Linked DNA regions of Homo sapiens. The protein of the gene in region 2 purifies or fractionates together with the protein of the main gene of each other region. This does not show direct contact. Each region holds a gene or a part of one and is shown on either strand. Other genes may lie near its edges. The genes, in order: CYBRD1 and PCDH7.

Region 1 (2,914 bases), on a different chromosome or scaffold from region 2:
CAATTTTAAGATCAAACAAGTGTCAAGGTAGGCCATGGCTTGTTGGCAGTAGTAGGGGCCCTATGGCCTATTTCCAGGTATGGGTGGCCCCTTTTCCTTGGTTATCTGGGGAATCTGCCACAGCAAACAGCAAAAGGTAAAAAGCATCCCTTTAATAACTACACCCCACTCCAGCAATTGAGGTTTATTCAGGGGTGGGTCAAAGTAGTACAAGACAAAAATAGCTTAGTGAAATGGTTAGAATCCAGACTGAGGTGCCAGACTGCCTGCATCTGAGTCTCAGTCCCACCATGTATGAGCCGTGTGACCTTGGGGTGAGTTACTAGCCTCCCCAGGCTTCAAATCTCTCACCTGTAAAATGGGAACAGTAACAATACCTACTTCATCCCGTCTGTCTGGGGACTGAATGAGCTAATATGTGTAAAGTGCTTAGAGGAGTGTTTGGAGCATAGTAAGTGCTGTGTGAGTACTTTCAAAAATAAAAACAAGAACTTGGGGAAAAGTGCTCTCTGAGGTTTGTAGGGCAGTGTATGCTACTTAAGTGTTGAAGCATATTTTCATTCTAAGAAGTTTAGCATCTGGATCATAAAGTACATCAACCCTAGGGAAGTCTTGGGGCTAACTTCAGTTTTGGAAATTCTTCCAAGTCTGACCAGAGAAGATCTCTTCAACCACCTGCTCTAATCTATCAATACCCTAACATAAACCCTAGTCTCCAGGGACAATTTGAGCCCAAACCAGCTGGGGAGGGAGCAGAAGGCAGGCATGGGGAGAAAGGAACCAGGTGCTTTCCTAAATTTCTTTAATATACTCTCATCATGGTATCTGTGTAGAGTCATGATCTAAACCCTGTCCCAGATATTCCTTATCGGATTTTAAACTTTTAGGACTGCTTCCCGCTAGTTGTGAAATCATTGTCTCCCAGAATTAACAGGAAATGACTGCATGACAACAGGCCAGGGATGCTGCCAGTTTATCCAATTAACTACTAGTAGACACATATTCACATATTGAGTATCTATTCTGCACAAGGCACCGTGCTAATGTTGTGGTCCTCAACAAGATAAAGGTAACATAACCACAATTTATATCTGCTATTATTTATATTAATCACATCCTTTCCAATTCAGGTCAGTTCATAGGCCTCAATCAATACAAATTATTTCAAGAAACCATCCTTTGTGATTAAAGTAAATATTGATACTACATAGCCCAATTATCATATGGCTAATAGGAGAAGCAAAACTGTAGAGCTAGTTTTGAAACGTGACGTTATATGGCTCTATCTCTACAACATTTTACATGGTAGATCTCTGCCCAGCCTCATCCAGAGCTAAGTTTCTTTTCCTTGCTGCTACTTCACTGTTTAACTCTGAATCTGATTTGTCCATGTTGTTGCCAGAGTAGGCTGGCATGGAACCTCTTGCTCCCTGTTCAGTGCCTCCATTTGGATGAAGAATGGTAGAATTTGGCTCCTTAGGACGTTTCCATTGCGGTCTGGTGACTATCCAAAAAATGAGGGCCCCGAACACCAGGATCAGAAGGCCAAGCGTATTTACGAAAACACCTTCTGGCGGGAATGTACTGTATGCAGGATCTCTCCTATGAAATAAGAGATGTATCCAATTACAAACAGGATGATACAGCAACATGCAAAACAGTCTTGAATTTATCTGCTCAAAATGCACACTAGTACAGTTTCAATGTAAACTCTCAAAGCTTGCTATTAAGGAGAAATATAAATTATGCTACAATTCACTCGGGAATATATAATGAAATTGATTTAAAAATAATAAATATGAAAATAATATAGCATCTGTAACACTTGTTTTAAGGCAGGTAGGGTCTGGAGGCAGGCAACCTCAGGTCAATTCACACGGACTTCCTAGAACTAAACCAAAAGGAAAACCCCAACTTTCCACATCTAAGTAGCAAAAGGACCCGAGGCTACTCCCTTTGCAAACCCCGCTTTTCTGCATGGCGGATGGAAAATTGAAAGTATCTCTGATTGGTTGCTTTCTACAACCAATCAAACTGACTGCAGGCCACCACTTCATTTACATGCAGTGAACACCAACTGGCCAATGGGAAACCTCTAGGGGCTATTTGGACCCAAGAAGATTCCCTATCGGGCCGTTGAGTGGCTGCTCAGGCCACTCCCGCCCTGTGGAGTGTACTTTCATTTTCAGTAACTCTCTGCTTTTGTTGCTTCATTCTTTACTTGCTTTGTTTGTGTGTTTTGTCCACTTCTTTGTTCAAAACGCCAAGAACCTGGACACCCTCCACCAGTAACAGTTATCACTTAAAATTTTTAAAAAGGATGAAACAAAAATGTATGTACACTATAATTACAATTAATATAAAAACATGCATATCAACAAGATTGAAAGGGAATGTATAACTTCAATAGTTGTTTCATAAGAGTAATACAATTTGTCAGACTTTTTGGTCCTTCTAAACTTTTAGTAATATCATATTACCTATATGATATAACAAATTCTTTAAAATATTTTTTAATTTTAATATCTAAAAAATTTTGTTATATTTTTATTACATTTTCCCAGTGAACAAGTATTTAACATTTTGTGGCTTAAGTATTACAATTAAGAAGACTATGCAACTTACAGGGAAAAAATCAGTTTCTCTGTCAATCCCATAAGTGCTGTTGCAATCACTGTTCCAAAGATGACAATTCCAGAATAAACATGTATGGGCATGAGAAATGCTCGGAGAGAAAGCGGAGCCCATGGAAGCAGAAAGACTGAAAAACCTGAAAGAAGCTAAACACCAAAAAGTGCAAAGGTTATCATTTAATTTTAAGTTCTAAACTAATTTTAAATTATTTAAAAAGCAATATGTGTAATATGACAAAACCTTTCATATAGAACCAAAGGGTAGAAAATGAAGTTTCCTC
Region 2 (3,836 bases):
CTAAAGTTGGCTGGGTGTGGTGGCTCACGCCTGTAATCCCAGCACTTTGGGAGGCTGAGGCAGGCAGATCACGAAGTCAGGAGTTGGAGACCATCCTAGCTAACATGGTGAAACCCTGTCTCTACTAAAAATACAAAAAATTAGCCGAGTGTGGTGGCGGGCGCCTATAGTCCCAGCTACTCTGGAGGCTGAGGCAGCAGAATGGTTTGAACGCAGGAGGCGGAACTTGCGGTGAGCCGAGATTGTGCCACTGCACTCCAGCCTGGGTGGCAGAGTGAGACTCCATCTCAAAAAAAAAAAACGACCTAAAGTTAATAATAATCCCAACTATTTATCATTGTTATTTAAATAATAATGGTAAAACATTTTATCAATTAATATAGTGAAAATACAACTTATTACTTATTTATAAATTATTGCATATTATTGTCTCATTTAGTTCCTTCTGCAATCCTATGATTTGCAATTGAACAAACTGAAGCTAAGAGGGGTTAGAAAATAATACTCCTTGTAGGAGGTAAAGCCAGGATTCAAACTGAGGTCATCAGATTTCAAAGCTTGTTTTGTAAACCAGTAGATTCTACTTACAGCACTGCCAATTCTTCTCTAGGACAGTACCTTCTTTAGACTCTTTTAGATTGTACTGCTCATTTTACTAGACAGCTGAGAAGCCACTATAGCACACATTTTAATTAGTTGAGTTCTGGCTTAGAGACAGTCTCTATAATCCATCTCTCTATATATTACTATGAAGAAATTCAAAGTGAATAGCACCCTCCCAAAGTGGTGGCATACAGACTTTTGGGGGATACTTGGGAGGTATAGAGCCATGTCACAATTGACAGGAAAGGTGAAAACAATTGCAGCCTCAGTCAGACACTGGCAACTAGGGTGGCACAGAGAAATGCAAAACTGTGAAAATGAATCCTTAGCAAGTCATGTTAGTCTCTTTCTGCAGAAGACGAAAAAAGGTATGACAGGTATTTGGTATTTTAGGTATTGTGCTTATGCCATTAAAAAGTATATGAGGATCTTTGGAAAGATGGAAGAGGCAGCCTTGCTAGAGAAGTTTGCTCAATCTACGTGAAATCAGCACAAACCAATAACTAGACAACTTTGCCTGACAGATGCCTGCTTGAAAATTGGGAGACAGGAGAAAAGGAGAGAGAAAGAGGAGGTCCTTTATCTCATACAAAGATATGCCTTTGGTCTCTATGCTCATTACACTTGGCCATTTAAAATTAGTGGCTTATTCTCAATGATATTTCAAATACACTGTCTAAAAGCAATATGAAAAGTCCATGTTTTACTGCAGCATGTTTAAATAATCAAGGACAAGGTATAATGCATGTAGAATGAAGAGATGAAGGAAATGGAATGAATCAAACAGTTGAGCTTAGCTTATATAAGTGTGACAAAGTAAGGAAGTTTGGAAAGGGAAAGTTCAAAAATATTCATGTATAAAGTCAAAAGTATTATTTAAAGATCTGAGAAAATCAAGAGGCATAAAATGAATTAGGGATTTAGAGTGGCCAAATTTCGAACCTCATTTAACTTGTTATAAACCTGGTTTATGGATCATCTGCTGTTTTTTTTTTAATTTATTTTTATGGTGTGATATTTAAGAAAGTCTACCTACAGAAAAATATATATTATTTCCTACCTTTTTTTTTTCATTTGTACTCTGACCAAAGTTCACATTGTTAAGTAAGAAAACACATGTGCTTATTCTATTGTGAAATGTCTTAATCATAATTCATGTATTTCAAGGGCATTGCACCCAGGGCTTGATCAGATCTACAGATGGTTCTTGCATAGTGGGATCTGAAGGAGGCTCCACAGCTGTCTCCCACACTGGCCTACTATGGTGCCAACATTTCCACCCACCTGGCCAGAAATCACACCATTTGATTCAGTCCACTCCTTTGATTTATGTAATAAATGCATTTTCTACTATTAAAATGCACTTGCTGTGTGGGTTCAGAGAAAGGCCCTAGAATCACTACTGGCCTGCCCACATTAACATACATTGTCAAATTCACTCACTATCTTACTATGAGACAAATGTCTCCATTCTATAGCATAAAAGATACAAGAAAAATTGAATGTAAGAGAATCACAGATTATTGGACCTGGAACCGAGTAAGATTTCAGAGTTGATTTATCAATTTCCTTAGACAGTAGCCTACCCAATGCTGATGGCAAAATTGAGATGAGAAGCCAAGCAAGGTGTTTTCTATATCTGAGCTTATTAAACACTAATTATCATAAAGACTTACATAGCAAAGGCAAACTGGCTTTGCAAAGATAATTTAGAGGGGGCTTTGGAAAGATCAAGTAGGTCATGGCATGAAGGTAGGGACCAGGATAAATACAATAGACCTAAAGAAACCATTGTATACCACTCCAAGAGAAAGTCTGAAGACTACTGCGTAATTAAAATAAGAGCAAACTCTTGCACAGTCAATGCTTGCCTTGAATGAGATGGTGCTTTTAAGCCTAATGTTTGGTTTTTAACTTGAATTACCAATCCATTGCAATATGCATCAATTATTCTAACATTTTCATTGTCAAATGTTTGTATTACCTATTTCCCCCATAAACTCTATATGAATTATTACTTTATTGCTAAATGTATTTTAATGAAACAAATAACCAATTTCCTCAATCTTTGATTAGATTGATATTAAAAGATTAGCATGAAATTATCATAATGATGATAATTAAAGGCAAAGAAATATATATTAGTAATCTTTGTCACAAATAAATGTATAACTAATAAGGTTTTCTTAAAATATTTTTTAAATGGGGTAATTTCTAGTGTTACTTTCCAGGGACCTGTGGCATTCTACAGATTTGGAACTTTAAAATGGTGGATCTCATTCTACATTATTAGATTCCGGTGGTAAGAAATTATATTTATTCTTATGGTATATTCTTTTTCCTTAGCTAATAAGAGAATAAAACCTCATTCTACATTTGGCGGTAATGTGTTTTAGAATATAGCGTAAAGCTTGTTAAACAGGGAATTAATACACAGGCCCTTTGAATGAAATTGTATTCATCATACTACAGTACAGAAGGAAGATAACGCTTTTGTAAAATGTAAGTACATTTCACTTAAATTTTCTTGTTTCTGTTCCTTCTCTGCATTTGTGAAAATGTATTTTTATCATTAGCTATCCTAACTTATTCCTGGTTTGTTAGCATGACATTGGAATTTTACTTGTTATTGCACTAGAAATTATCTTCTAAACTTTACAATGAAAGTTAATCCCAAACACTTGCTGATAACTGCATTGTTTCACATAGGTTAAAATTCAAGAAAAATGTTTGAGGTAATAATAATTAGGAACTAGCACAGCATCCAAAATGGTATTTTAATGGAAAATCCAAATGAAAATCCAATACAAATCCTGATTAAAACCTAGCCAAGCAAAAAACTACAGATTACCTGGATTCCAATTAAATGTGACAAATGAATACTTGACAGGTTTCAATTCCAATTCTATTTATGTCAGAATGATCCATTAATACTGAAGATGAAATTACCAGAATTTAAGCAACACAATTGCACTTTATGGCTAGATGAGTAGTCTGAAAACACGGACCCAACAAATTTGTTACTCAAAGGTCAACTGCTACATTTAGATCAGCCACAGTGCATCGCATCTCATTTTGTCATTACCTATAGATCAAGGCTAACATGAATCACAGCCAGTAGATGACAAATGGTCATATAAACTCTGACTTTCAAGTGTTGGTCACATACAAAATCAGGAAAGATCCGTTACATTATCATGACCCTTGCTTTTGACAGGCCTTAAAAACTTGGT

The links.
Region 1: the proteins of PCDH7 (region 2) and CYBRD1 purify together in Homo sapiens (affinity purification with mass spectrometry; one large-scale study listed by BioGRID and IntAct). This does not show direct contact.

Annotation. Positions count from the first base shown.
Region 1 is NC_000002.12:171,553,212-171,556,125, reverse strand, and holds part of CYBRD1 (plasma membrane ascorbate-dependent reductase CYBRD1), read right to left. Parts: intron 2,781-2,914; coding exon 2,626-2,780; intron 1,603-2,625; coding exon 1,299-1,602; 3' UTR 1-1,298. UniProt on the Homo sapiens protein: Plasma membrane reductase that uses cytoplasmic ascorbate as an electron donor to reduce extracellular Fe(3+) into Fe(2+).
Region 2 is NC_000004.12:30,922,656-30,926,491, reverse strand, and holds part of PCDH7 (protocadherin-7 isoform d precursor), read right to left. Parts: intron 1-3,836.